Regions from separate parts of the Homo sapiens genome. Here all the other regions are linked to region 3. Evidence: fine-mapped QTL for protein levels in blood plasma. Region 3 holds a variant in brackets. A gene starts in each other region. All regions are shown on their forward strands.

What was found. PIP is the posterior inclusion probability: the model's chance that the variant is causal. The UK Biobank Pharma Proteomics Project read protein levels with antibody pairs (Olink). The fine-mapping took linkage between variants from a reference panel, not from the people measured, so its PIPs are less certain.
Region 1: SLC51B starts here. The variant in region 3 is fine-mapped to the plasma level of the SLC51B protein (UK Biobank, PIP above 0.99).
Region 2: GPA33 starts here. The variant in region 3 is fine-mapped to the plasma level of the GPA33 protein (UK Biobank, PIP above 0.99).

The regions. Positions count from the first base shown.
Region 1 is chr15:65,039,178-65,049,627 of GRCh38, forward strand. SLC51B (SLC51 subunit beta) reads left to right here and starts at 6,210. Exons shown (of 4, transcript NM_178859.4): 1 at 6,210-6,405. It also overlaps a transcript of RASL12 not described here.
Region 2 is chr1:167,085,675-167,096,476 of GRCh38, forward strand. It overlaps GPA33 (glycoprotein A33), which reads right to left and starts at 4,703. Exons shown (of 7, transcript NM_005814.3): 1 at 4,571-4,703. The coding sequence starts at 4,613. STYXL2 (serine/threonine/tyrosine interacting like 2) reads left to right here and starts at 8,401. Exons shown (of 6, transcript NM_001080426.3): 1 at 8,401-8,520; 2 at 9,160-9,285. The coding sequence starts at 9,176. LOC124904451 (a long non-coding RNA gene) reads left to right here and starts at 2,926. Exons shown (of 3, transcript XR_007066717.1): 1 at 2,926-3,010; 2 at 3,649-3,737; 3 at 5,112-5,707. RefSeq lists enhancers at 614-1,113, 4,729-4,878.
Region 3 is chr13:103,055,917-103,066,271 of GRCh38, forward strand. It overlaps SLC10A2 (solute carrier family 10 member 2), which reads right to left. Exons shown (of 6, transcript NM_000452.3): 1 at 9,957-10,355; 2 at 2,348-2,466. The coding sequence starts at 10,333. Among named protein-coding and RNA genes, the nearest start is that of SLC10A2, 5.3 kb to the right of the region's middle. The variant G/A (reference allele first, on the strand shown) is at 10,140.

The sequences.
Region 1 (10,450 bases), not on the chromosome of region 3:
CCTGGAACTTAACCCTGAGCTGAGGTTAAAGCATCCTCTGCAATCCAGCTGAGGGGTCAGGTTTCTGGACAGCTCAGCCAGTATTCCCTACCCTCTAGCATCCATCACAATTTAGGGAAAAAGTTCTCCTTCATACTGGTGTTTTACCTTATTTAGCAGAAAAGCCAACTGGTTGACCCCAGGTGGAAATCTCCCATGTTTAAAGGGCCTGGACTTTGTCATTACACAATTGGCTCCTTCTGATAGTAGTTGCTAAAATCCTTTGCTTTTTCACTCCTTGTAGAACCTTAATGCGTTTTGATAAAAACTTGAGGTCCCAGTGACTAGCTCAAGATCACACAGCTGGTCAGTAGCAAAGATGGACAGGACTAGAAGTTAGTTCTGCTGCCATGTTATTTACTTATCCAATAAACCATTTTTAAACATGCAGAATGTATGTATTAGTTACAGTACAGAGTAAGTTTCTGTAACAGGGAGATCCCCAAACTTTTCCTGTACATAACACTTTCAGAAGCTGATAGGTGGTCCAGGGCAGGTAGGCTGCTCAGCTACCTGAGGTTAATCAGGAGCTCAAATTCCTTCTATCTTGTTGCCTGGGTTGTCTTTTTTTTTTTTGAGATGGGGTCTCATTCTATTGCCCAGGCTGGAGTACAGTGGTGTGATCTTGGCTCACCGCAACCTCCACCTCCCAGGTTCAAGTCATCCTCCTGCCTCAGCCTCCCAAGTAGCTGGGACTACAGGCATGCGCCAACAGCCTGGCTAATTTTGTATTTTTAGTAGAGACAGGGTTTCACCATGTTGCCCAGGGTGGTCTCGAACTCCTGAACTCAGGTGATCCACCTGCCTCAGCCTACTAAAGTGCTGGGATTACAGGCGTGAGTCACTGCACCCAGCTGGCACTTTTTTTGTTTGGTAAATGAGGACCAAATGGCAAATATTTTAGGCTTTGTGGGCCAATCGTCACAACTGCTCCATTCTGCTAATGTAATGCCAAAGCAACCCTAGACAATATGTAAACAAATGAGCATGGCGTGTCCCAGTAAGAATTATTATTATTATTATTATTTTTTTTTTTTTTTACAAAACCAGGCTGCAGGTCAGATTTGGCCCATAGGCCAGGTGCGGTGGCTCACGCCTGTAATCCCAGCATTTTGGGAGGCCAAGGCGGGCGGATCATGAGGTCAAGAGATTGAGAACATCCTGACCAACATGGTGAAACCCCATCTCTACTAAAAATACAAAAATTAGCTGGGCGTGGTGGTACGTGCCTGTAGTCCCAACCACTTGGGAGGCTGAGGAAGGAGACTCGATTGAACCCGGGAGGCAGAGATTGCAGTGAGCCAAGATCTCCCCACTGCACTCCAGCCTGGCAACAGAGCGACACTCCATCTCAAAAAAAGAGAAAGATCTGGCCCATAGGTTAACAACCCCTGTCCTGACATGTCCTTTCCACCATCATATCTGTGTTCCAGAAAGAGGAATGAGGAAGTGGAGGGGTTGAATTTTCTCACAAAAACATGATCCACAGGTAGAAATAGTGCAGCATAGTCACACAATAGAATACTACGCTACAACAAGAATGAATGAACCACAACTACACACAACGCGGATGAATCTCACAAGTATAATGTAGAGCAAAAGAAGCTGACACAAAAGATTGCATATTGATTGATTACATTTATATAAAGTATAAAAACAGACAAAATTAATCTATGGTATTAAAAGTCAGGTTGCCTTTGTAAGGGATAGTGACAAGAGAAGACTTCTGAGATCTGGAAATGTTCTATTTCTTTTTCTTTTTTTCTTTTAGAGACAGGGTCTTACTCTGTTGCTTAGGCTGGAGTACAGGATGCAATGGTGCAATTGTTTTATTTGTTGATCTGGATGGCATATGTTCCCATGCATGAGTGTGTCCACATGTGAAAATTCACTAAGCTTACCATTTGTGTACTTTCCTATATGTATACTCCAACAAAAAAAAGTTTGTATAAATTTCAAAAAAAAAAAAATAGTGATTCTGAAGTTGCAATCACTTCTCAGGTCTCTTTCGGCCAAAACTTAGAGGACCACTTATGACTGCAGGGAATCTGGGAAATGCAGGTTCATTAATTTTTTTAATTAATTAATTTATTTATTTATTTTAAGATGGAGTCTTGCTCTGTCACCCAGGCTGGAGTACAATGGCGTGATCTCAGCTCACGCCACCTCCCAGGTTCAAGCGATTCTCCTGCCTCAGCCTCCTGAGTAGCTGGGATTACAGGTGCACGCCACCATGCCTGGCTAATTTGTATTTTTAGGAGAGATGGGGTATCACCATGTTGGCCAGGCTGGTCTTGAACTCCTGACCTCGTGATCCGACCACCTCGGCCTCCCAAAGTGCTGGGATTATAGGCATGAACCACCACGCCTGGCCTGGGAACTGCAGTTTCCAGTTGGGTGGCCATATGCCTCTAAAATTTAGAGGATTCTCTTATTAAAAGGAAGAAGGGAAGAATGTAATCTAGGGGGAAATTAGCAGGCTGTGCTACAGTCCACACAGCAGCACAGGCCCATGACAGTTATCAAATCCTGCTGGGCATGAGCTGTGAAGACCTCCACCCTGGCAGTAGAGTAAGTTCTTTGGTTAGCCCACCTGGCTGCCCTTGCTACTGTTTTCTGGGAATAACTCCCTTGACCTTAGTTCTCTGTATTATCTGAGTTTACTCTCAGATAGGTTATTCGTTTACTATAGAGCATGGTCACACCTTTTTGTCCTTCTTCCCTTTTGCTTTTTTTTCTGCTTGGAACTTGGATATAATGGCAGGAGCTGCATCAGCCATCTAGGGGCCATGAGGGAGTCTTAGAAACCTCAGCCCTGATTTCCTTGGTCTTACGACATTAATAACTGGCTACTTCTGACATTCTTCTATGAGAAAATAAACTCTTATGGTTTAAACCACTGACATTGGGTCTTTGTTACCCAGAGCCAAACACAATTCTCAACTGATATGGAAGGCCTCCCTAAGAAGATGACATTTAAGCTGAGGCTTGAAGGGTTAGCAGGTGGCAGATACCAGAATAGCAGAGGAAAACCAAAAGCCCTTTCCACTCCACTACACTGCTGACTGTCTATCATCCTCTAGGTAGGGAGATAAGAGACTGGAGAAGTCAGGAGAGGAGATTTCAAGGTGGGATTGATTGGCCAGGAATGATAGTGATGCTGTGAGGAAAGGAGGGCTTGGTGATGTGCTCTCATCTCCATGTGTACGTTTCCTTCATGGCACTTGTCACACAGAAGTTGTGATGACATGATGAACACCCGTCTGTCTGTTCTGCTAGACTGGAGTCTCCATGAGGGCAGGGACAATCCTTTCGACTGTTTATCACTGGCATAATGCCTGGCACATGGCAACCATGGAACAAGTTATTGGATAGGCCGTAGTAGAAAGAGCTAGGGTAAGAGGAGGGAGAGAAAAGACACAGAAGCAGAAGAGTGGAAAACCTGGGATTGTGCAGGCTCCTTGTTAAGGGGACACCATCCCATTAGAGCACCACAACACTCCTCAGAGGCAGACAAGGGGGATTGAGGTCAAATGGTTCCTTCAGGCACCCACATGGCATGGGCTGTCCAGCTCACAGCCTGTCTCTCCTGGCTACCCAACAGGCATGATGAGCTCTGAGTTGGCTATCAGTGGTACCCCCCTCCCTAGCCATAACAATTGATCCAAGACATAGGTACATGACTCAGGCTGGACAATTAGAGTCCTTTCCAAGAATTTTTAAACAAGAGCTAAGAAAAGTAGCTACTTCCTCTGCAGCTATGAGAGCATGAGCCTGGGTTTCCTATCATCTGGTCAAGCTTCCCGGAGGTGGCCAGCCTGGGGTAATGAGCCTGGCACCCAGAGAAAAGCAGGGAAAGAGCCACAGAAACAAAGCACTACGGGTCGTCAAATCCCTGGTTCCCGTATGCCTCAGGTCAGCTCCACCCTGCCCTTCCTAGTTTATGAGCCAATAAATTCCTTTTGTGTTTAAGAGAGTTAGTGTTGAGCTTCTCTCTTGAAATCTATCAACTACCTTTCTCTCCAAAATGCACCCTGAATCTGACCACTTCTCATCATCTCCACTGCCACCAGCCTGGTCCAAACTACTAATATGTTTTGCCTGGATGAATATAACAGCCTCCCAATGGTCTCCCTGTTCCTCTCTTGCTCTCCTACAATCCATTTTCCACCCAGCAGGCCAAGTGATCTTAGACAAATGTCAATTAGATTATGTCACTTTCCTGCCTAAACCCTCCAGTGGCTTCTCATCACTTTTAGGGTAAAATACAAACTCCTTACCCTGTTTTACAAGGCCCACCATGAGGAGTGGATACTCCTGTCTGTCCTCTGACTTTATTCCATGCCACTTCCCCCTCATCACTATGATTCAGCTATATTGGCCACCTTTTTGTTCCAGACACATTAAGCTCATTATTTCTTCAGTGTCTTTGTACCTGCTTGCTTTCTTTTCTTTTCTTTTTTTTTCTGAGATGAAGTCTTGCTCTGTTGCCCAGGCTGGAGTGCAGTGGTGCGATCTCAGCTCACTGCAACCTCCGCCTCCCGGGTTCAAGCAGTTCTCCTGTCTCAGCCTCCTGAGTAGCTGGGACTACAGGCGCCTGCCACCACACCTGGCTAATTTTTTTATTTTTAGTAGAGACGGAGTTTCACCTTGTTGGTCAGGCTGGTCTCGAACTCCTGACCTCAGGTGATACACCTGCCTTGGCCTCCCAAAGTGCTGGGATTACAGGCATGAGCCACCACGCCTGGCCTTTGTACCTGCTTTTTCAGGTCTTTGCATGGTTAACCCCTCATCATTCAGTTTTTAGTGTAGTAATATAGTAATCATGTCTCCCCCACCTCATCCCTTTCTATCTTATTATGTTGTTTAAGATATTCACAGAAATGATCACTGCTATAATTATCTTTTAATTATGCTTTTGCTTACTTTTTTGTTGGCTATCTCCCCTGGAGTTTGAGCTCCAATGGAGCAGGGCCCTCACCTGTCTTATTTACCATGTATCTACACAGTAGATGCTCAAGTAACATTTATTCAATGAATAAATGAATGCATTACAAAATGAGGAGGAGCTGGAGTTCCAGGCAGCCCCTAGATTCCCTGTTGGGTCTTCTTTCCTCTGCCCCATGCACACACAGTACACACTGTTGACTAATGTTTAACTCATAGAGGAGTTTGGGCTTGACATGTGACCTCACTCAGCCTCTGTTTCATTTGTGAAGTAAGAAATAAGAGTGGGCGGCTGGGCGTGGTGGCTCATGCCTGTAATCCCAGCACTTTGGGAGTCTGAGGTGGGCAGATCACGAGGTCAGGAGATCAAGACTATCCTGGCTAACACGGTGAAACACCATCTCTACTAAAAATAGAAAAAATTAGCCGGGCATGATGGCACATACTTGTAGTCCCAGCTACTCAGGAGGCTGAGGCAGGAGAATTGCTTGAACCGGGGAGGTGGAGGTTGCAGTGAGCCAAGATTGTGCCACTGCTCTCCAGCCTGGGTGACACAGCGAGACTCCATCTCAAAAAAAAAAAAAAAAAAAAAAAAGGAGTGGGCTTATTTCACATAAGCCCACTCCTTGCTAAACCAACAATGATTGCCTAAGATGCACGGAGCCAGTTGGTGGAAAAGTCCATAGACTATCAGAGTTGAATGGTGCTGGTCAGGTGGGAGGAGCACCTCATTCCTGCTTCCCCATCAAGTTACTTGCCTTGGCCTGCTTCCTACTCTCTGGGTCACTGGTGCTCACACAGCCTTTCCCAACCCCCACCTCCAAAGGTCATATTTTACAGCTCCTTGTGAGGAATTCACATCATGCCATGACCTTCACTATGAGAAAGCACAGGCTGTAAAAGGCCAGCCTGGCTCCCTGCTCCGTGGTTAAATATTGATGATATTGGGCAATAGAGACCTGGAGTGGGCACACTACATATCCCCCTGCAGTGATGGAACCCACAGACCGCAGGTCCTCTGCAGTCCATTCTCCTGCCTGTCCAGAGGATCCGGATGTTTTCTCTTTACTTGAGGCCAACACATAACAATGAAAGCACTGGGCTACTGGTGCTTTCGGATTGTGAAAGTCAGGTGGAGCCTGTTTGCACTCTGAGTGCACTCATTCAAGAGGTCAGTCACCCTGGAGTGATACAGAAGGCTCCAGGCCTGGGCGTGTGCTAAGGCCAGAGCTACCAGATGGGTCCAGCTGCCGCAGGCTCTCCAGGCACTGTCCCCTAAGTGACAGCTGTTACTGCCTGGGAGAGCTCAAGTGCAAAGACTATCCTGTTCTCCCATAAAGAGGAGGAAAAGGAAGATACAGAAATCGGTGCTGCTCCCAACAGCAGATCAAGGCAGTCGTCAGGAACTCAGGATCCGGGGTGAGTGTCCTCATCTTGCCTTGGGGATGGGTGGCCCAGGTCTTTGGCAGAAGTCACAGTCCAATGGCACGATGGTTAAGCCCTGTTTAAAATGCAGAGATCTCCCAGAGGGGCTTAAGGAGACAAGACAACTAAATGCAGTATGACATCCTAAATGGGATCCTGGAACAAGAAAAGAACATTAAAGGCAAAACTAACAAAATGCAAATAAGGCATAAAGTTTAATTTAATCATGCAAATGACAATATGATGCTCACTTTAGAAGCAAACTGGATACGTGCTTTGATAGAAATATGTCTTTGGCCGGGCGCAGTGGCTCACGCCTGTAATTCCAGCACTTTTGGAGGCCGAGGCAGGCCGATCACCTGAGGTCAGGAGTTCGAGACCACCCCGGCTAACGTGGTGAAACCCCATCTCTACTAAAAATACAAAATTGGCCGGGTGCGGTGGCTCATGCCTGTAATCCCAGCACTTTGGGAGGCCGAGGCAGATGGATCACCTCAGGTCAGGAGTTCCGAGACCAGCCTGGCCAATGTGGTGAAATGCTGTCTCTACTAATAATACAAAAATTAGCTGGATGTGGTGGCGGGCACCTATAATCCCAGCTACTCAGGAAGCTGAGGCAGGAGGATCACTTGAACTCGGGAGGCGGAGGTTGCAGTGAGCTGAGATGGTGCCACTACACTCCAGCCTGGGCAACAAGAGTGAAACTCTGTCTCTAAATAAATAAATACAAAATTAGCTGGGCATGGTGGTGGATGCCTATAATCACAGCTACTTGGGAGGCTGAGGCAGGAGAATCACTTGAACCTGGGAGGTGGAGGTTGCAGTGAGCTGAGATCATGCCATTGCACTCCAGCCTGGGCAAAAAGAGTGAAACTCTGTCTCAAAAAAAAGAAAGAAATATGTCGCTTGTTTCTGTGGCATCTAACATAGCTGAGGAGGGCTGACTCTCGGTTCTGGATTTGTATCCAATTTGTCATTTTGGTTTTTTGTTGGTTGGTATGTGTTTACTGTAACAATATTAAACATATTTTAAACATATTTTGGCCAGGCGCGGTGGCTCATGCCTGTAATCCCAGCATTTTGGGAGGACAAGGTGGGCAGGTCGCTTGAACTCAGAAGTTCAAGGCTGGCCTGGGCAAGATGATGAAACCCCATCGCTACAAAAAATACAAAAATTAGCCGGGCGTGGTGGCACATGCCTGTTGTACCAGCTGCTCAGGAGGCTGAGGTGAGAGGATCGCCTGTGCCCGGGAGATGGAGGTTGCAGTGAGCCAAGATGGTGCCATTGCACTCCAGCCTGGGTGACAGAGCCAGACTCTGTCTCAAAAAACAAAAAACAAAAAAACACCACTCCACTGTGGACAATAGCTTACCTGCGTCTTTGTACACTGATCTGATTAGTTCCATTAATTAAATATCAAAAATTGGAATTGTTGTCTCAAAAGGTATAAGTACAATAATACCTACATTTAAAAATGCATACAAAGGCTGGGTGCAGTGGCTCACACCTGTAATCCCAGCACTTTGGGAGGCTGAGGTAGGCGGATCACCAACCTGGCAAACATGGTGAAATCCCATCTCTACTAAAAATACAAAAATTAGCCAGGTGTGGTGGCACATGCCTGTAGTCCCAGCTACTCAGGAGGCTGAGGCAAGAGAATTTCTTGAACCTGGGAGGCGGTGGTTGCAGTGAGCCGAGATCACACCATTGCACTCCAGCCTGGGCAGCAAAAACAAAACTCCATCTCAAAAAAAAAAAAACATACATACAAATAGACAAAATATACATAGAAATATATACACACATTAAAAATGGAATTACATGTATTGTTCTCATGAAAGCAGTGTATACGCATAAGAAACCACACAATACAGGAGTGGTCAACATGAATATCCCATGTGTCTAAATCTCATCCCACACCCTAGAAGAAGACTGTGTTTGGTTTCTCAACTTCAATACTTTTCTTTGTGAGTTCAGGGGTTTGCATATGGCACAGGGGCCTGTGGCTGATGTTACTAATCAATCCAGGCACTCTTACATCTGAGACTGGATGGAATGTCACAATCCTTCTTGGACAGTGCTCTGGACAGTCAGTTGGAGCTAGAACACAAGATCACATCTGTTGGCCATTCTTGTAACTTTGTCTTTCCATGATTTTAGATGGGTAGGTAGGCAGATAGATAGATAGACAGATAGATCGATAGATGATAGATAGATAGATAGATAGATAGATAGATAGATAGATAGAATCTCCCTCAAATGAGTAAGTAGGCAGTGTGCATGTGAGTCCTTGAAAGTCTAAGAAAGGGCCAGGCACGGTGGCTCAGGCCTGTATTCCTAGCATTTTGGGAGGCCGAGGCGAGTGGATTACCTGATGTCACGAGTTCAAGACCAGCCTGGGAAACATGAGGAAACCCCATCATTACTAAAAATACAAAAATTAGCCTGGCGTGGTGGCATGCCCTGTAGTCCCACTACTTGGGAGGCAGAGGCACAAACGAGAACCGCTTGGACCCAGGAGGCATAGGTTGCAGTGAGCTGAGATCACGTCACTGCACTCCAGCCTGGGCGACAGAGCAAGACTCCGTCTCAAAAGAAAAAAAAAGAAAAAAAAAAAAGTCTAAGAAAGGTCTTTTTTTCTCCCTGACTTCCATCTCCACCTTGGCATATGAATGATCATTCACATATGAAAAGCTTAAGTCAGTATTGTATTTGTGTCAAAATATTTTCCCTTGCAATTTGTAGATATGCCTTTTTAGTTTTCTCAGAGCATTTAGTGCTAGAGGAAACTCTGATGTAAAGCTAGTCCTTTTGTTGATACTCCAATTTTCTGTCTGGCTGTTTGCCATCTAGCTGTTTTTGAATGCCCCTGGCTAAGTGTCCAAAGGCTATTTGGGGCTGAGATTGTTGAGCACCTAAGGCAGTGACAGAGTGTGAGGGGACCTGAGAATGCTTCGATCCTCCCTGTACACTTTTTTTCTTGGTGCCCTATGGCATGTTTTATAATTGATCTGTTCAAAACACTTCTCTTGTTTTATTTTAGTTACGTTTATCTCCATTCCTACTCCCTTCCTCCTCCTCCCCAAGACACAGCTTAATGTGTTTAATGCGTGTCCTTTTAAAAAAATGTGTTATTGGGTCAGGCGCGGTGGCTCACTCCTGTAATCCCAGTACTTTGGGAGGCCAAGGCGGGTGGATCACCTGAGGTCAAGAGTTCGAGACCAGCCTGGCCAACATGGTGAAACCCCATCTCTACTAAAAATACAAAAATTAGTGGGGCGGTAGTGACATGCGCCTGTAATTCCAGCTACTTAGGAGGCTGAGACAGGAGAATCGCTTGAACCTGGGAGGCGGAGGTTGCAGTGAGCAGAGATCGTGCCACTGCACTCCAGCCTGGGCGACAGAGTGAGACTCCGTCTCAAAAAAAAAAAAAAAAAAGCGAAATAACTTAACAATTTTAATATTGGCCTGAATAATATATGTTGTCAAAATTAATTTTACCTATTTCTTTTTGTTTTGTAAAGTATGGATGCTAGAAAATTTTATATTAAGTAGTAATAATGCAGTTAGTACAAGAAGACGTCAAAATGTCTGACTGTTTTGAGATTGACTGAGGTTCAGTTTATTATTAATAGTTGGGATGGAAATAGGCCTACACGAAGTAAGGGATTTATCCAGAGAGCATGGATTCAAGTTCTTCCCTTGCAAATAACAGAAACCAATTCTGCTAACTTGTCCAAAAAAAAAAGAAAAAGAAAAAAAAAGCTCTCGGGGTCGGGGCAGGGGGTGCCCTCTCAGCATCAGGAGCCGGCAGCTGCCTTTCCCTCCGGCACTTTTCCCTTTTCTCCTCTCTGTGTCGTAGGCGTGCCAATCCCCAGGAGAGAGGCGTGATAGGCCCAGCCTTTGACATGTGGGGAAACACAGGCCTGTGATTGGCTACCGCATGACACCCAAGGGACAAGTTGCTATGGCAACGCGTGGGCGCGCTGTGGGCTCGTAGAAGCCAGGTGCGGACGCTGAACAGGCAGGCGAAGACCC
Region 2 (10,802 bases), not on the chromosome of region 3:
TGTATGCACACTAATGTGGGAGAATGCATACCATTGAGCCCCCTAAATTGAGGGAATTGGACAGTAACCGGAGAAGCAGCTGGATGATGCAAAACTGAGCTAAAAGTCACATGCAGTGTATTAGAGGCAACTGTTCATTAAACCAACTTTTCCTTAAGTTCCAATTCGTCTCTACACCTAGACTGCACATCAGAATCACCTGAGTAACTTTTCAAAAACCAGAGAGAAACCCAGATCCTTCCCCTCTGGATTCTGACTCAGAAGGTATGGGGGAGACTGGGCATCTGTATTTTCACTTCCCAGGTGACTCTGATGGGCAACCAGGGTTGAGAGCCACTGGCCTAAACTATTAGTCTTCCTCTTTTGAACACCTAACCTTCTTAGACCGACCATTCATAACATCTTTTCTCCATTGAGGCTGGGACTGAGACTAGAGTAGGACATTTTAATCCTGATTGCGTCTCTGACAGGGAGGCAATGTGATTCATTCCAGGTGCATGAGCTCTTCCTACAAGCACTGGCTTCTGACTTGTGCTCAGGTGCCAGCAGGTGGGGCCCAGGCCCCAGCGGGGAGCCAGGCTAATTTAGGATTGGAATGGCAACAGGACCCAGGGCCACAGAGCAGATGGTGGGCGGGCCGCTTATCTTGCAGTTGCATTTGCGGGCTGACACCACCCCGGCTCTGGCCCAAATACTACCCTCTTGAGGTCCAGGGTCTCATCAGAAGTGCACATCTGAGGCTAAGCCCCTAAACCACATATCTTAGGCTAGGCCACTGCACAGAGCTTAGACATGTGACACTGGGCTCAGATAGGCCATCGTGATAGGGCAGACCCCAGGGACCAACCCACACCTGTGTGATCCACACGAACATGGCACTTCAGAGCAGACAAGTGTAGGGCACCACATTTAGGAAAAATCTTCCTGCTGGGATTGTGCCTCTAACAAAGATGCCAGGGAAGGGTTCTAAAATGGCACAATCAGCCTCAAAATGTCAGCAACTTGCAAACTTGGTTCCCTTCAAAAACTCTTCATGGATCAAGCACCTGTGGGTTTTCTGAAACTTTTTTATATGGGGGGAGAAAAAACATTTTTTTCTAGAGAGAAGAAAGCTTTTACACCTTTCCCAGGTTAAAGTTCTCCTGAGTTTTTCTCATTTAACTTAGAAAAACAAGGAAGCTTCCTCTCATTCTAGGAAGGTGGGGTGTGTAAGTAAGTGTGTGTGTGTGTGTGAGAGATTGGGTCTTCAAAGGTTTCACTGGCTCTGAGCAGAGCTGTTCAGTGACTTTTGTCTCCTGGAGCTTGCCTCTTTATGCATCCCTTTTCATGCAGCGGCACATTGCAGCACATCAAATCTTTCATGAAGTCTGGTGGCTGAAAAAAAATCCTGGAATGGAAGTGCCTTGATTTTGTGCACACATTGGAGCATTTTCTCTAACAGCCTTGTGGAGGGGGCAGCGCATGGCGGCTTTTTTGGTGATAACTTAGGGTTCATCCACAGTGACCTCTGACTCCCTTTCTTGGCACGTGTCTGCCATCTCAGAGCTCTCGGATAATTGGTCACCAAAGTCTACTAATTTTCTGTAACTTACATTCCCCCACAGTAATAATAATAACTGCACTCATAACTGGCATTTATTGAGTTGTTATTATGTGTCAAGTCCTCTTCTAAGATTTTTACATGTGCAAACTCATTTAGTACCTATAATAGCCCTGTTGGGGCACAGTGTGAATTTTACACCCCTCCATTTCAGACTAGAAGACTGTGCAAGAAGACTTTAGCAAAGTGAAGCCATTTGCCCACACCATAGTCAGTTAAGAGGCACTGGGGTCAGCCCCCTTTGGTCCCCTGGGATGGCAGTGGAGTGTTAGGAGGGACGGGTGGAACATTTCCCAGGCATGGAGGTCTGTTTTGTCACTGACTCTGTTTAGAATTGTCAGCACATGATAATCATAAAAAGCAGACCAACGGTGGCTCACACCTGTAATCCCAGCACTTTGGGAGGCTGAGGCGGGCTTATTGCGAGGTCAAGAGTTCAAGACCAGTCTGGCCAGCATGGTGAAACCCTGTCTCTACTAAAAATACAAAAAATTAGCTGGGCATGGTGGTGCATGCCTGTAATCCCAGCTACTAGGGAGGCTGAGGCAGGAGAATTTCTTGAACCTGGGAGGCGGAGGTTGCAGTGAGCTGAGATCACACCACTGCACTCCAGCCTGAGCAAGCCAGACTCTGTCTCACACACACACACACACACACAAAGCAGACCAACTTTTAGTCGGTTTTATGATTGCTTTTAAACTCCCTACTTTAAAAGCACGGCCTTGCGTTTGTGCCCCCTGCATGGAACCTTATGAATAGCTTCTGCTTCCTCCAACACCACTTGAGTCTTGAGGCCCATTCATCAGTGCAGTGCTTCCCTGCCCAGGTCTTAGCAGAATCAATTCCTCGGAAAGGTCAGATGGGAAGAGAAAGAAGAGAAAAGCCCAGTAAGTCCTCTGGAACCCAAGTCAAGCTCCACCTCCTCCAGGAAGCCTTTCCTAATGTCCCTGCTCCTAACTGGGTCTCCCTTACCTGCGCAAAGGAAGAGGTGGTATCCTCTCATGAGGCATGGTGGGGAGGGCCGCCTGGTTGCTTTTGGTCGACCTTTGAAGGTCTTCCTTGCTCACCTGCAGTGGCAATGGCTATTTCACTATTTGGTAAACTCTGTTTATATACCTCAAGTCGACCACCAAGCCTGGCTTCTCCTGCCCCACTGCTCTGGCCCCTTCTTCCTCTTAATGTAAGATATGGAGGAAGAAAAGTTGGTGGGCACGTGATTCTGTGCTGGGCAGGCTGTGGTGGGAGGGATGGGGCGGAGGTAGAAGACACTTCATCAGTGTGTCTGAAAACATGCCCAAGACTCGTTCTGCTGGGTGAGTTCCCCAGGGGTCACTTGCCTTCTCATAGGAAGAAGCAAAATGTCCTGCTCCAGGCAATTCAGAGTTACGGCCACTTTTCCCTCCAAGCTGGGTGAGCATCTTGTTTTAAGATCGTTTTTCTAAGCCAAAATTTCTTATTTTTATTCATGCATGGGTCGCAGCCAGTCTACAAGTGTGGGGATATGTGTTGGGGGTTGGGGTGGTGCAGGCATGGAGGAGCTTCTGGCTTACCAGGAGAAGATGGGAGAATCACTGGCCCAGCCAGGGAAGGATGGGTATTTCCTTCAGCCTCCCTCTCTCAGGCCCTGGAGCATCCTCCCTGCCTGAATCTGATGGCTGAGATAGGCCCACTTATGACTAATCATTCCAGACTCCTCACTTCTATGGCACCTGCACAAACTATGTGCTCAGTAAAGAGTTGTTTGGATAAAGGAATGAGCCAACCAGTCCATCTTGGTGGATGATGAGGGGCTTTCTGCCTTCAGTCAGATGAACTTGAGCCAGCCTGAGAGAATGATCTTACCCAGATCTTCCTCCAAACCGTGTGATCCAGCCCTTCCCCAGCAGCAGGCTGCCCTTCCCTCGAGAGCCCCAAGGCCAGGTGTTGAGAGAAAAGCATGTCTAGGGCCTGGGAGAACCAGAATGAGCTGTAGGCCCCGTGGCCCGGGGCTTTCCTGTGTATGCTAAAAAGTGAGCTCTAAACCAGTCTCCTGGTTTCCACTTCCCCAGGCTTGGTGCTCCTGAGTTTCCTGGTATAGCTCTTCTCCTCCCCGTTGCAGCTGGATCCTGGAAGCCCTCAACAGTGTCTGAATTGCAAGGTGATGGCCAAATACACTAAACCAAAGATATTCCTAAACTTTGCCAAACCCTGCGTCTCTCAACTTCCTTCTCTCCATTCTATTTCCTTCCAATGCCCAGCAAAATGGTTGGTACCTTAATGCCAAGACTTTCATTCTAACCCTTAGACACTCCATAGGTCCCCACAGAACACTGTGCTATTAAGCACTTGATGTGGATTCAACCATATACTCATGAATGTCTGATTTTGTTCTGGGAGGTTTCCCTCCCAGAGGGAAATGCTCAGAGTCCCAGAATTTTCAATGACCAGGGTCCCAGAAGTGGCAAGGAGCTTTGGCCTTTGGAAAAGACCCATCTAGTTTGTTGTTTGTTTTTAGGGTTTGAATCTTCTCTTGCTCTGTGAATGATACGGGATAAGTTGCATTGTCTCTTCTGCCTCAGTTTCCTGTCTCTTTCTCTGGTTTTAACACAAACGTTAATATACTAGATAATGAACATATCTAGATCCACACATCCTGGATTTTCTAGGACAACTCCGATTTCAAATACTTTGTCCACATTGTCAAATCCTGTGTCTGATCCTATAATCTAATTTGGGATAAGAAAATATGGTCTTGAGAGTACTTTGAATTCTTCATTTCAGCAGTGGGCTAGAATGTTATTTACTAATATGTAAATAAAAACCATTCTGATTCTGGGCACTGGTCCGGAATGTGTAATTCTGGCCCAGCAGGAACGCAGCTGTGTTGCTGGAGGCCCTTCCTGGGAAGGCTCTGACAGAGCCTCTCCTTCAGCCCTAGGTCCCCATGTCTCACCCACCCCTGGGCACTGGAGAGAAAAGGGGCCTACTCACCTGCACAGAGTGTCCACAACACAGGCCACATCTTCCCCACCATGGTCTTGCTTCTTCTCTGCCCTAAACCTAACCTGTCACTGGCAGCCTCCAGACAGGTCTGAGCTGTCTGGTTAAAGCTACAGCAGCTTCTGGCCTGGCCCAACTGGAGGTCCCTGCAATTTTCCCTCTTCTCACCCACCTCTGCCCAGCCTCAGCTGGATTGGCAGGTGAGCTCCTCAGCTGGATTGGCAGGTGAGCTGGGGCTGGGCTCATGTGTCACCTACTCCAAAGGTCCCAAGAGGAGTCTTCCCTACTTCCCTCAAGTTCCCCTTAAACCAGCCACCTCCCCTGCCTTCTCCCTACTTAACAAGTGTACAAAGTCCTAGACTGCTCACAAAGGGGTAGGCCTCTCTTATAACTGACAGGAAATAAATAATAAAAAGGGAAATGCACTCAGAGGTAGGGTTCCAAGCTAGTAAAAGAAGGGTGTTGCCCATATTTGCTGAAACACTTCAAGACACAATGTGATCTGTTTCTCTACTTCTCTCCTCTTCTACAGCCTCCACCCCACAGTGCGCAAGAGATATAGTCATGAAGAAAACAGGAAGTCTCCCCCTTCAGAGTTTATATTCTGACTGGGAAAGTAGCAAGTTCATAAGTGAAAGAAGATCATCTTGGGGACATGTGACCAACTTGTCTCACTTTTCCTAGGACTGTCCTGGTTTTCAAACCAAAAGGAACCCCCTCAGTCCCAAGCAAATTTGGATGATGGTCACCCTACTGAAAGAATGATCAGTGGTGTGGGACCATAATTCTCCAGGAGCAGTGGCTGTTGCTGGTTTCTTCCATAGATATTTTAGATATATATACACTGTTCTGCAATGATTTATTCATTTTTCATTTAATGAAAGGTTTTAGAAAGCTTTCTGTATCGGTATGTATAGCACCACCACCATCATCTTTTTAAAATGGGGATGATATTTCACTGTATATGAGTGACATGATTTATTTAACCAAACTACTTTTAAGATTGTTTTTCCTCATCTTTCACAACTATGAAAAGATTGCAACCAATATCTATTATGTGTACGATATTTCACACGTGTTGTGATTATACATGTAAGATAAATTCTTAAAAGTAAAATTTCTGACTCACTGAAAGTTATGCATATTTGTAATTTTTATAGATATTGCTAAACTAGCTACCATGAGAATTTTACAGCCTACACTCCTATTAGCAGCATATAAGGATACCTATCTCCCCACACACTCACTAACACAGTTACCAAGTGTTTATGACACAGTTATCAAACTTTCTGCTCATCGCCAATCTAAGTGAACATGATATCCCATGTATATATAATTTACTTTTTAAAATTATTAGTGAAATTTGGCCAGGCGCGGTGGCTCACGCCTGTAATCACAGCACTTTGAGAGGCCAAGGTGGGCTGATCACGAGGTCAAGAGATCGAGGCCATCCTGGCTAACACGGTGAAACCCCGCCTCTACTAAAAATACAAAACATTAGCCAGGTGTGGTGGTGTGCGCCTGTAATCCCAGCTACTTGGGAGGCTGAGGCAGGAGAATGGTGAACTCGGGAGGCAGAGCTTGCAGTGAGCCAAGATGGTGCCACTGCACTCCAGCCTGGGCGACAGAGCAAGACTCTGTCTCAAAAAAAAAAATTATTAGTGAAATTGAAAATCTTTTAATATAGTTGCACATCATATATATTTTCTTTTCTGAGACTAGGTAGCTCATTTGCCCGTATTTCTTTTTTTAATAAATTTTTAAAAATATAGACACAGAATCTCGCTACGTTGACCAGGCTGGTCTTGAATTCCTGGGCTCAAGCAATCCTGCCTCAGTCTCCCAAAATGCTGGGATTACAGGCATGAGCCACCACGTCCAGCCGTTTGGCCATATTTCTATTGAGCTGTTGATCTTTAGCTTGTTGACTTCTAGCAGATCTTTGTATATTAGGGAAAGGAACTTTTGGATGTGATAAGCATTGCAAATATTTCCCCTAGCATTTCTTTGTGTTATGAATTCATAGTATCCTACATGACTTATTGTTATTAATCCTTTTGACTGCTAGGTTTGGTTGACATACAAAATTTGTTGTTTTCTGTTTATTACATTTCACTCAGGCACCTTGTTAATTCTCTTATTATATGTAATAATTGTTCAGCCCCAACATTTTATAATATCTTTGCCAAATTAGTCTTCCTAATTACTTGTCTGCTTGGGTCCTATCACTGACTCTGCAGAACCTAACAAATTAGCTTTTAAGGTATTCTAGCATTTGTTCTCAAACACAGTCTACCTTCCAGAATACGTAATTTATGCTCTGACCAAGTTAGACATATTTTCATACCCAGAACTCATACTTCCTTACCCCCAAAACTTTATTGATGCCACCCCCTCGGTAATTCCCTTCCCCTACTATATCTGCTATTATAATCTTACTTGTCCTTTAGAAGTCAGCTCATATATCACCACTGCTTCTATGAAGTCTTTCCTGATTTCTTCAGTCAGAAGGGCTCTTTCTCACCTTTGAACTCACACAGCACTCTGGATCTCTTTTAGGACACTAACTACATTCTCTCTTATGCTTGAGTTATTTTTGGTCTGTGTCTCATTCCTCCTAATAAACAGTGAGCTCATTCATTCAGCCATTTCTAATGATACGATATACCAGGCATCATTCCACCTAACTAGGAAGAAAGACAACTTTAAGCTATGTGTTTTGCCAATTTTGGTCAAGTAAAGTGTCATATGTAGTAGGTAATCAATGAATATTTTAAGTTGGTAAATGGATGGATAAATGGATGAAAGGATGACTATGGTATGTGTGGGATGAGAGGTGTGGGCTATTTGGCTTTGCTTTGATCATTGTGATGGTAGAGGGGTTAGTAGGGTAAGACAGCTTATTTGACATTTATGAAGCTCATGGAATTCTTAAGTCACCCAGGGTTGCCAATCCATTATCACCTTGGGGTGTGAGTAGAGGGGAGGAAATGTGGAGGGTGAGCACAACTGTCCAGTTGACCATCCTGAGACATGTCTATTAAAAGAAATGCAGGCAGGGCACGGTGGCTCACACCTGTAATCCCAGCACTTTGGTGGACGGAGGTGGATGGATCACTTCAGCCCAGGAGCTCGAGACCAGCCTGGGCAACACAGTGAGACCCCATCTCTACAAAAAATTTAAAAATTATCTGGGTGTGGTGGCATGTGCCTGTACTCCCAGCTACTCAGGAGGCTGAGGTGGGAGAATCACCTGACCCTGAGAGGTTGAGGCCGCAGTGAGCTGTGATGGCACCACTGCACTTTCACCAGGGCAACAGAGCGAGACCCTGTCTAAAAAAAAAGAAAAAGAAATGTAATCCTGGTCACAAGCAATGACTACTCTTTAATTGTACCACAGTGCTCTCCCAATATCTATCTGTTGAGTACCCTTTCCATTCTATATATCTGGTCCTTTTTTTAGGCCTCTCTAGTTGACATGCGGCTGTGGTAAGTTTGTTTATTCTTCTATATCTTTGGATTTAGACTCTCTTCTGGAAGAACTTTGAATAGGCTGTCCCAGGCAAGAGGGTCTGAAGAGAGAACCCAGAGAAAAGCTGTTCTTTAGATTCTCCATCTACCAAGCACAAACGTCTTCCAATTCTGCTGCTAAATGTAAGCGTCTGGAGAATCAGCCAGGAGGGAAAGAGTTAAGTGAGGACTGCTTTGGGGCCTGGGTCCAGAGCCTGCATTCCTTCCTCCCAGAAATCTGCCAGCCTATGGGGCCAGAGGCTAAATTTAGAGGGTGGCTAAGGTTTCCTGTTAACAGCTGTCCTGCCCCTAGGAGAAGAAGCCCTGAGGAAGGAGGTGGCTGGTTCCTGTCTCACTGGCCGGAGCTTCAGCTTCAGTCATTTCATCTGGGTCCCTCAGCCCTTGGTGGGGAACATCCAGGCAGGTTAGAGGTGAGTGTGCTTCTCCCCTTGTCAATCCTGGTGAGCCCAGGACTTACAATACAAGGGGCAGCGGCTTTGCCCTGAGTGTCAGGGCACAACCATGATGGCTGGGACCAGCTGCTGGTATCCTTCATGTCCTTTAATAGGCTCCAGGATGACGCCTGAGCCAAAGGCCCTACCTCCTGTGGCCTTGGTTAGAGACACCGAAGGCCAGCTGTGTCTTCCCCAGCAGAGACAAAGGTGTGCGCATGGGCATAGGTGAGGGGCGTGTGTGTATGCACATCCTATAATTTCAACTGAAAAATCTTGCTGGTCCAGGGAAGTCATTGTTCTTCAACTTTTTGAGCTGAGATCAGGTAACCTGCTGGCTCCTCTGCCTGCTCCCTTGCTGACATCTGTGGAAGGAGCCACACTGGCACTTCAATATTGTCACTTCAAGGTGGGCTCCTAATATGGCGGGGTGCACTTCTTGGTGTCCCGGTAACAGTGGCTGGGCCAGGTCTGACTGGATATTCCTTGCTGGTCTTTTGCCCACCGGGACCTTCCTAGTCCTAGTTCCACTGAGGTGACATCACCAACACAACTTCTCCCCCAACAAAACCTCAGGAACCTAATTCCCTAACTGCCTTTTTCTTGCCAAACTTTCAGAGGTTGGCAGGTTGTCATGGCGACCAGAAAGGACACAGAGGAGGAGCAGGTAGTCCCAAGCGAGGAGGACGAAGCCAACGTGAGGGCGGTGCAGGCCCACTACCTCCGAAGCCCCTCCCCTAGCCAGTAAGTGACCACTTATCTCCCACCCTCACAGCCCCAGCTGGGAGGGGCTGGGGACAGGTTGGGCCATTAGCTCCAGGGAGCCTGCAGCCATCACCTCGGTTCACTCATTTAACAAATATTATTGAGTACTTGTATGTGTCCTACTTTCTGGAGGAGGTAAATATGCAAATAGACTGATTGCAATGTGGCAGGTGTGTGCTAGATATTAATATGACCAGGATCTAGTATGTGGTGGACTAGACAATAGGGAAGGGAACAACTGGACTTGGAAGGTCATAGGAGGCTTGGCTGGAAGAGATGATGATGGACCCGAACCTCAGAGGATGAGTAGGAATTTGGCCCTGCTTGATTCAGTAGGACTGGGGCTGGATATGGGGATGACAGGCCGTAGACTATAAGAAAAGGGATGAGGAGAGGAGAAGCCCATGGAAGCATTCCCTAGCACTAAAATAATTTTTTATCCATAATCAAGCTGTGTCTTTTAAACTGGGACATGTGCATGCCTGGGGCAAGTGGCAAGATGCCAAGAGGCATGAGGCATCTTCCTGGAGAGTCCTCTTTTTACCACAAGTAATTTGAAACTTTCTTTTACATTAAAATCATCGACGTTATGTTATCATGTAGAATGAAAAAAATGTGCATAACATTTTAAGACAAACCACGAGACGTTAAAGAAATGTCGTGCTTAATTGCCTGCTAAAACAATACTGTGTGTGCCTGTCCATTTTCTTCTGTCATAAATCATAACAGGAGACCTGACTTTTAATCACATCTCTGTCACCAAATTGGTGTGAAGAATAACTGAAGTGATTGAGCCTTTAGTTGGAAGCGCCTAACTAAAACATCTGAAATTAACTTCCCCTCTAAGAATTTATCATTCTGCTTGATTTCACTTTTCTCTGATGCTCTTGGGATCTTGCTGGCTCCTGCTTCCTGTGTCAAAAGGCTTCCCCAGTGGAGTAAGACAGGAATGAGGGCAGGTGCTCAGCACTCATGGGCCAGGGCACTTCGCCCAAATGGAGCTTAGAGACTTCTCCTTTAAAATTCAGCATTATGTTGGGAGGCCGAGGTGGGAGGATCATGAGGTCAGGAGATCAAGCCCAGCCTGGCCAATATAGTGAAACCCCATCTCTACTAAAAATACAAAACTTAGCCAGGTGTGGTGGTAGGTGCCTGTAATCTCAGCTACTCAGGAGGCTGAAGCAGGAGAATCACTTGAACCCGGGAGGCGGAGGTTTCAGTGAGCCGAGATCGCGCCACTGAACTTCAGCCTGGGCGACAGAGCGAGACTCCATCTCAAAAAAAAAGAAAAGAAAATTCAGCATTATGGTCCCACTTAGGAAAACTCTCAGGATTGAGAGATTTAACATAGGTCCTCCTCTCTTGTATACCCCCGAATAAGGCAGAGGTCGCTTCGTGTGTGGTTGGGATAGGTGACAGTTTCGTGTATTGCTAAGAGTAATGCTAGCTATTATATCTAAAGGACATTTCTTTCTTGCTCAAATAAGTTCCAAAAC
Region 3 (10,355 bases):
ATTATTACTTTTCTAAGTCCTTTCACAAGCAACGTCCTCTTTTCCTTTGTTGTCTATTGCCTATACCTATTTAGAAAAGTTTTAAATTATTAGCCAGTCAGGTTTTAGCTTAGATTGTGATGTCTGGCTCCAGCCAATGGAGACAGGACACAGTAGCAGGGACAAGCTGCATAAGGGATACGAATTACTTCCCTCCATTGTTCAGGTGTGCTGTCACCATTGTGCCATCTGTGAGGAGCACTCTTTCTGCAGAAAGTAAAATTGCCTTGCTGAGAAAACTTTTTGTCTGAATGCTCATTTTTCCTTGTGGTACTGAGGAACAAGTATTCTGTTTCTGAATAAATATTTTACATATAACAATATCTTTGTTTTTCAAACTTCTCTCTTTTTCCGTTTTCTTTTCTCTTTTCCTATTTTTCTTTTCTTTTCACTCTTGACCTCTTATGATGACCTTTTCCTCCATTGAAGTGCTAATTGATTTTTCATTTTCTCCTTATTTCAAAATTTATTCACATCACAGAATATGGTATAAGTCATTCACACTGCAGTTAGAATTATTCAGTATTTCCATGAGTCATTTCTCAGAAGGGAATGTATATCAAAAGGAGAATATTTTATGGCTTAAATTATTAAATTATTACAGTGAGTATTGTGGAATCAAAATTCCTCACTCAGCAGACAGGTTCTTTGAGAGGGATATAATGGTCACCACTCACGTAAACTATGGTTTTTAGCTCTATGGAAGGCGTCCGCTGACAGAGCAGCCAGAGAGTCAAGCAGCATGAAGGCAAAAGCAGGTGGTAGTGGAGGGTCACCCTAAAGTCTCTTGTCAGGAGGTTATATATGATATTAAGGTTCTCTCCTGGAGTCTGAAGAATCTTGTATATCAAAAGCCCATACTGAATAGGGCATGTCAAGGAGGACAATTTTTTTTTTGGTCTAATGGTAATGGTAAGAGTAGGAGAGAGAGAAGAGGCTACAAACATTGTAATACAGATCATCCCCAATTAGTATTCACAAAGTTTATTCTAATTCAGTTGTATATTCCCTCAATCACCCTAAATCACAGAAGCAGTCTTTCTCAGAAATGGAAGGCATTTCAGCCCAGCTTCCTATCCCAATAGGAGTCCCTTTTACAAGCATCCAGGTGGCTTATCATTTAGCCTTTGCTTGGATGCTTTCTTCAATGGGAAACCCACACCTTTCTGAGGCAGCTCATTGGGATTTTTTTCCAAGGTCAGTGGGGAAAAAAACCCAGGTATTTGGGGCATATAGTGTACCTGGTGATTGTTACTGATTTACTATTTTGCCCACATCTTGTCTTTTGTTCGTGATAGTTCTGTGGGAAATGCCTATTCCTGGTATACCAGGAACTCTCTTGTTCTTCCTTTGACCCTCATCCCTAAGTTACAACAATAACTTAATCTCCCACTATAATTTGTTTCCCCAGAAACAGAAAATAAGGTTTTTGGGATGAGGGTGAAATGAGACAGAGTCATTACTAGTAAATTTGACTCCTGGAGCATGACTTTGCCATTAAATCAACTTTTGGGTCAAGGTGTGGCTCACAGTCGAGTGTTAGAAACAGTGTGTTTCGTCTAGCAGTTTTCTGTTGTAACACTCTGGATTGCTTACTCAGTGCTCTATTTTGAAACCATTATGTGATTTTAAAAAATTTCTTCAGGCTGGGCGTGGTGGCTCATGCATGTTATCCCACTTTGGGAGGCTGAGGCCGGCAGATCACTTGAGGTCAGGAGTTTGAGACCAGCCTGACCAACATGGAGAAACCCCGTCCCTATTAAAAATACAAAAATTAGCCAGGCGTGGTAGTGCATGCTTGTAATTCCAGCTACTAGGGAGGCTGAGGCAGGAGAATTGCTTGAACCCAGGGGGTGAAATTTGCAGTGAGCCGAGATCACGCCCCTGCACTCCAGGCTGGGTGGCAGAGTGAGACTCCATCTCAAAAAAAAAAAAAATTTCTTCAATTCAAGTGTCTGGATGCAAAATCCTATGACCATTAACTAGTGACACTCTGGGTTAAGGAATAGGTGCAAGCTCCCATGTCCCCAAAGCTTAAGCCTCCTCAGTCCAGACTGAGGGCTGGGGAGGGGGCTCCTTTCCCTGGTGATTCAAATTGAAGAAAAGACAGGTTCTCCCATAAGGTCAAGGTTTGGAATTTACATTCTGCCATCACTCTCCAAACGCAGGGGTGACTTTATAATGAAATCAGGCAAAAACTCCTACTAGGGCAATAACGGTCAGGTGTGAGCCTGGTCTGAGAGCCTAGCAGGGGGTAAGCAGAGAGTTTGAGGGTAACAGTCAACAGTCTTACAGATGGATGACTTACCTATGTTATCATAGGGAATTACGATGCTCCCAGAGTCGACCCACATTTTGGTATAGATAAGGAGGCACAGCGGCATCATTCCGAGGGCAAGCAGTGTGGAGCATGTGGTCATGCTGACGCTGAAAGGCAATGGGCAGATTGATACATCCACCTGTGGTGTTCTAGGGAAGATGCTGTTTTATTTTTATTTTTTAATTTAACTTTTATTTTAAGTTTAGGGGTATATGTGCATGTTTGTTATATAGGTCAACTTGTGTCATGGGGGTTTGTTGTACAGATTATTTCATTGCCTAGGTATTAAGCCTAGTACCCATTAGTTATGTTTCCTGATCCTCTCTTTCCTCCCACCCTCCACCCTCTAATAGGCCCCAGTGTCTGTGTTCCCCTCTATGTGTCCATGCGTTCTCATCATTTAGCTCCCACTTATAAGTGAGAACATGCAGTATTTGGTTTTCTGTCCTTGTGTTACTTTGCTAAGGATAATGGCCTCCAGCTCCATCCATGTTCCTGCAAAAGACTTGATCTAGTCCATTTTTATGGCTGCATAGTATTCCATGGTGTGTATGTACCACATTTTCTTTATCCAGTCTATCATTGATGGGCAATTAGGTTGATTCCATATGTATGCCATTGTAAATAGTGCTGCGGTGGACATATGTGTGCATGTGTCTTTATAATAGAACGATTTGTATTCTTTTGGGTATATACCCAGTAATGGGATTGATGGGTTGAGTGTATTTCTGTTTTTAGGTCTTTGAGGAATTGCCACACTGCTTTCCGCAATGGATGAACTAATTTACACTCCCACCAACAGAAGATAAGTATTCCTTTTTCTCTGTAACCTCGCCAGCATCTGTTAATTTTTGCCTTTTTAATAATAGCCATTCTGACTGATGTGATATGGCATTTCATTGTGGTTTTGATTTGCATTTCTCTAATGATCAGTGATGTTGAACTTTTTTTCATATGATTGTTGGCTGCATGTGTGACTTCTTTTGAGAAGCATCCGTTCATGTCATTTGCCCACTTTTTAATGGGTTTGTTCATTGTTTTCTTGGAATCTAATTAAACTAAAGAGCTTCTGCACAGCAAAGGAAACTATAAGCAGAGTAGACAAACAACCTCCCGAATGGGAGAAAATTTTTATTTTCGATTCATGATAAGAAAGTCCTGCAAGAATCTGTCTCAACCTGTAGCATCGTCTGGTGTGATGAACAGTAATATACATGTGCCTATGTGCCTGAGTGTATTCAGGGCCTGGCCTTGAGCAAAATGGGCCATATTTGGTGTCTTTCCACTTTGCCTTGTGCCGTCCTTCCCTCCCCTTTTATTCTTAAGGGTCAGAAACAGTATTAAACGATGGGTTAAAGTCATCATTAAATAATGTATAAGGTTCGCTGGGTGTGCCATCCTTCAAACATTCAATCAAAGAACAGCAAACACATTTAAAGCAGCTGACACCACCAAGGCTGCATGTGTCTGACCATGCTGAGATGGAATGGGCCTCCCTGGGCCCCTGGAATAGAATGCATGTCCGAGGGAGGAGGCCTCGCTGTGTTGCCATAAAGCAGAAAAATTACTGCCCAAGTGACCCTAGCTTGGGACAAGAAGCGGAAGCTGACTTAAAAATCAAAAGAAAGCATGCAAGCGGCAGGGTAGACATAAATTCTTAGCACTGAGTAAGTTATTGGCAATTTGGCAAATGTGTGTTCAGAAGAACTAGTGTCTGGTATCATCCCTGCTCAGAGTGTTTGCATTTTAATAAGAGGGTCTGGCTGAGTAGGCTATCTACATGGAGACATTAATGCCAAATGATGCTATCTCTAGTACTAGGACAGTGGGTCAAAGAAAGATTTTTGGGGAGTGAGTCTTCCGGGTCCTCTTCAAAGGGATCTGTACACAGCGTACATTCTCTGCCTTTAAAGCCTGAGCTCTAAAGCCACACACTGTCTGGGCTGAAAGCAGGCGGTGCCACTTAGTGTGTTAATTTGAGTAATTTAGTTGACTTCTCTTTACCAGTTTCCTTATCTAAAATGGCTGTAAGGATAGAATGAGCCAATGGTGTCCGGCACTTAGACCAATGCAAAGCACTCTATTAAGAGCTGGTTGCTACTACCATTTTTTTTTTTTTTTTTTTTTTAAATAGGGTCTCTCTCTGTCACCCAGGCCAGAGTACAGGGTCACCAACTTGGCTCACTGAAGCCTGGGCTCAAGTGATCTTTGCACCTCAGCCTCCCGAGTAGCTGGGAATACAGGCATGAGCCACCATGCCAGGCTAATTTTTAAATTTTTTGTAGAGATGGGGTTTCACCATGTTGTCCAGGCTGGTCTCAAACTCCTGGGCTCAGGTGATCCGCTCGCCTAGGCCTTCCAAAGTGCTGGGATTACAGGCGGGAGCCACCGCACCCTGCATCTCTCTGCTGTGATCATTTATGTTACCATGTTTTTGTATCTTGTGTTCCACCAAATAGAATCGGGAAACTTAGAGAAATGAGAAATTTCTCTGAAAGGCCCTTCTCTCAACAGGTCGTCATTGAGGTTGTCAAGAGTAGTAATTTCTTAAGGGTATTATGGGTGTACTTGAAAGAAAATGTTAAATATTTATATTACCTGCCCCCCAAAACAACAACAACAACAACACACTATACTAAGAAAGGAGCTAACAATGAGAAATTTTGTTTCAAGGCACAGTTAAATTTGCACAGTTTGGCAAAATACAGGGTGGGACAAAGTTCATCAGAGAGCTTAACTTCTCTAATAATATATTTATTTTTAACCAGAATGACCTCATTTAAAATAGGCTTAAATAATTTAGATAAAAATACTTGTTTTAGTAGAGCTAAAATATTACAACAGTAACAAATAATGTGGATGTATTTAAAACTTTAAGCAGTTCAATCTATTCTGGTTATAGGTAAATTTAGGCATGAAATAGATGCTAAGGCAGAATTGTACACCAGACAAACAAGTTAATTTGTTATTAATAGTACTTTGTCCTACTTATAATGAAAGTACTGGAGTTTGAAGGTAATTTTTTTCTCTGTTCCTTCCTCTCTTCTTTCAGTGTTCTCTTTTTTTTTATTTTATTTTAAAAAATATATTAGAATGGATTTAAAGTTGTCCCTATAATAAAATCACTTTTTTTTCTGTGCATCCAATATTTTTTTCTAGAGTGTGGTGGGAATCTGGTGGGGAAGTGAGGAGGATTTATTAACTGGGTTCCAGTGAAGAGAAGTCTGAGAATTTTTGTTTTAAAATGTGAGAAAATGTTTAAGAAGGAAGTCTTTTTCTGTCTTTGTTTTTTTTTCAAAGATCCTTGCAAAACCTTTAATTCTGAATATTGCTAAGACAATCTATGACGTTGTATCATAATTTTGAGTTTGGTGAGAGCAGTTTCTTAAGGATCGTGATGAGGGACAAAAGAGGGTTTGGAGAAGGAAAGGTTTAGACTTGTGAGCAGCACTGACGAAGAGACCTTGCAGATGAACAGACGAATAGGTAGCTGGAAGTTGATGCTATTTGAATGAATATAAGAACAAAATCAAACCACTCAAAATGAGATTTAAAACAATTCACAGATAACGAATTTTAAGAAATAATATAGAAGCCTAAATTAGCAAAAGAAAATATTATCTTACACGAAAAAATCTGAAGTTCTATAAAAGGCATGTATATAAAAAATACATACACTGCCTTGAATTTATATTAGACTGACAGAAAAGAGTCAAGTATAAGAAAAATAAAAAAAAAATCTTGGTCTTAATTTTGACTTCAGCTCTATTAACTGCCAGGGAGATTTTCTTTTGTGTGTATGGAAATAAAAGAAAGAATAAATGTAAATTTAGTGAATGTTGAGGAATTCAGTGAAATCAGTGTTAAGCAATGTAAAAGATTGTAATCATATTAGAAGTAAAATACCAAGTTTGAAGGCTCTAACGTAGCGTATATAGGCAGTGCTAGAAACTGGAGAAGTGAAAAGTGATAGAAGCAGTGTAGAGAAAGCTTATGAGCCTGCAAAGTGGTAGTGGGTAGACCTGGGTGATTCCAATTCTGACTCAGGCATACATTGACTCAATGACCTTGGTCAAGGTTATGAATCTTAACTTCATTATCTGCCAAATGCAGAAAATAATAGTACTAACTTTAGAGGATTCTTGGGAGGATGAAATATACCAACTTATTTTGAGTACTTAGCACTGTGCATGGCATATACTAGTGTTTAATAAATATTAGCTAGTAAAATCAGTGCTACTGGAGAGAAACAATGTTTGGTTACTTTTAGGGAGAATAAAGGAAAAAGCCGAATGGTTTTGGGTTAGGTCTCCCAGAGTAGAGAAGAGAAGGACATTTATGGGGTTGACATAGGAAGGATTGATTGCTGTGAATTTGTGGTAAGCTACAGGGTGAGATTTCTTGAATATCTAAAATATCAATGAATGCTGCACTGGAAGCTGAAAAATCTAACAGCATTTGCCCAAAGAACAAAGGATGTGGTAGGAAAGTCTGTAAAATAATAAAAAGGAATGTAGAAAGTAGGTGGCAGGGAAGGAACTGGGGGCAACTGGGAGAAGGATGCATAAGAATGGATTCCCCAAAGAGGAAGCCAAAGAAAGGAAATGAGAAGTCCTTGCATGGTGTCGCTGAGGCCATTAAGAAGGATGAAGACACCGGATATTTGCCTGTGTCTGGGGAGAGAGCAGACAAAAAGGAGATAGGATGTTTCTGTGTCCTCTCAACTATGGGTTTTGGCCACAAGCAGATTCACCTGAAAAGTCACCATCTCTTCTCCCTGATGCTTTTTGTGCATGTGATGTCCATGGCACAGCTGCAACTTAGGTGAAAATATATGTGCACCAATCAGATTCACAAACTCCAGGCTGGGAGTGGTCAGAGAAGGAGCTGAAATAGTACTTGCTGGATTCCAATGATCAAGGACTATTGTCTATTTTTTTTTTGTTTTTCAAAGTCACTAGAGATTGCAAAATGCGGTGGCTTTCCAGGTTCATAAGAGATGACAGAGTGAGAGAGAAATGTTTTGGTTTCTTCTCCCAAGAACCATAACCAAGAGAGTTAAAACCAGGTGGAATGGTTTTGCTGGCATTGTGTGGCATTAGCTCAATTAGTGTAGCTGCCTGTTAACATAAACAGTCATGTCTTCATGCCATTGCTGGAGTTCAAGTGGAGATGGAGAAGGTAAAATTCTAAGTGTACACAACTGGAAATATAAATGTTAGATAGGATTGTATCTAAGTAAATTATCAGGAGACTTTAGTTATCCAGTTCTTAATCCAGAAGAATAAAAAGTTTTGGAAAACTGTTACGCAATAGCTCAGGTTTTACCCTTTTAATTAATTTGTATTAAAGAAATATTGGAATATTGTTTTCCTAACACACAATGCATAATGTCATCATCTTACATAGCAGTATAATTTAACCTCTTCTCAATGATTAAGACCGATCATGATAAACATGATTATCGGTTGTTCTAAAATACCGTGACATCTTCTTGTGTTTGTAGAAGAGTAAGTGATACAGAGACCAGAGACTGGAATAAGTGCTACAGAAACCAGAGAGAATAATTGATAATTAAGAGAGAATATGTGATAGAGAGAATAAGTGATAGAGGATAAATGATAGAGAGATGGCTGTGTGTTGTCAGTGTCTGCTTTGCTTTGCAGGCATTTGATCTTCTCTTTTGCCCTTCCTAACACTCTGCTTCCTTCCCCGCTTCTTATTTCTGGGAAATAGCACAACAGAACTTTAAAATAAAAATAGTTAAGTCGGTCCCGCATGAGGAGCATTTATGAGATTAAGTGAAATTTATTTTGGGTGTGCAGTGTCTTTTATTGGGTCTTGTTGAGCTCTGGATAGGTGAGGTTGCTCCATGTTGCGTTACAGGGCTTATTTTGACTTGCTGGAAGGATTCATTTGCACGGATTTAGCTGGAGGTTTCTACCAAAGCTTCATATTCTACTTTTAGTTCTTATTAAAAAAAATAATTTATAGGAATTGTTATGCTAGGTGGACAGGATTACATAATCATCTCCTGTTTCAAGAGAAATAAGATTTCCTTAAAACCACAGAAAAATGTAACTTGGAGCTTTTAGGTTAGATCTTACTGTTTTTAGCTCACAGAAGAGAATTCATTTCAACAACCTAATAGTCCAGTACCACACACGTTTTTTTTCTGTCTTATAAAAGGGTTCCATATGTGGTATTACATTGAGGTACAAAACTCCTCTGCACTAAAAGTTACAAATATTATGAGAAAGCTGTTTATTGGGGGTCAAGGCCCAATGTTCCAAGTAGTTCACTTTTCTCAGTGTAACAGGTGCTGGCATTTAGAATTCTCACTTCTGTGTACCTGTGTCCAGGTCAAACTAAATTGAGGTCTAAAAAGACCTTATTGCTATATCGTGGTTCACAGATTAACTAAACCTGAATAGCACTTGCCATCCTATGTTGTTTTATAGGGCTTTCCTTAAAAAAAAAAAAGCAATTGCAAGGTGGATATCATGTGTTTTCTTATGTGAAAGACTAAACCATATGAAGGTATAGGGTTTGTATGACTTTTCTAAAGCTTCTGGAGAAACCAGCACCAGTTGAAATGAGACAGCAGGTTCCTAATTGATCACTGGGTACTCTATCAATCCAGTGTTTACAATTCTACACTTTGTGCTTCTCTCCTCTGCCAATAGTAGCTGGGGATGAACAGAGCTAATTGCCTACTGTACAGTATTTAATAAGCACACGTTGCATTAGCACCTGGATGGTTTGCAGAAGGAAATGCATACCTTTCAAGGGAAATGAGGAATTGTGAGCTAAGGAAAAAGACATTTGTCTATTCAACTTTTAGCATTAAATTTCTCAATCTAGTCACATTAATGCTTCATCTTATTTCTATTAGTTTTTTTTTCCAGTGCTAGTTCAGACTGGCACGGGATGAAATGGGCAAACATTGCAATTTAGATTACTCTGTAGGAAGTGGAGAAAACGTTTTCTGTTTATTTTGTAGTAAGGTAAGCATAATTTTAAAAAAGCTGCTATAGGCTTTTTCCCCCACTTTTAATGCCAGTAGAGGTGAAGCAAATTTACAAATTCTTCCTTAGGTTTTATACCAGGAAAATGTTTGCCCAAAGAACTGGCTATATTTGATGGAGTTGACCACTGTCTCACTACAGGTTCTAATGTTTGACAAACAGTTTTATTTTATGATTGCACCCAGAGCTCCTCATCATTACAAAGAAAGTGTATTTTGCTTTTTTTTTCCTGCTACCAACAGGATAAACCTCCTCAGCTGCAGCTTGTGGTTTGGAAAAGATTACTTTTTTAAAAAAGCTTTGAATCTTTTCCTAGAGATCAACAGCAATTATGCAACTCCCTGTTAACTGAGTTAGATTTAAAAACACAAACACAAAATATAAATCCCCCAATTCCAATAGCTAAGCAGCTGTGCTAGAAGGCACGGGAATGCATTTATTCTCTCCTGTTTGATTCCTTAGTCATACTTTAGATGCGTGGCAAATCAGTTGGACATTCAGAATGCCATAGGCTTCTGGAAGGATTACTCCAAGGTGATTGCAGTAGTTAGAGGTATAGATAATCTTACCTCAGGTCCATGTCGCCATCGACCCAATAGGCCAAGATATTGGAGGCAGTTCCTCCAGGGCAGCATCCTATAATGAGCACCACTACGGCCTGGAGCGGGAGGATGTCAAAGGCCACCGACAGGATGAATCCTGTGAGGGGCATGATTCCAAACTGACAGAGGAAGCCAACACAAATGCCCCAC[G/A]GCCGCTTTATGTGCCCTAGAAATTTCTTGATTTCCACGTTGCATCCCATGGAGAACATCACCAAGGCCAACAGGATGGTCAGCACCGTACTTAGGACCACACTTAGGATGTTATTGAAATTGCTCTCAGGTACCACACAGGATGCACCAGAGCAAACTGTTGCATTGTCCACACAGCTGTTCGGATCATTCATTGCTGGGTCTGCTGCTGGAAAG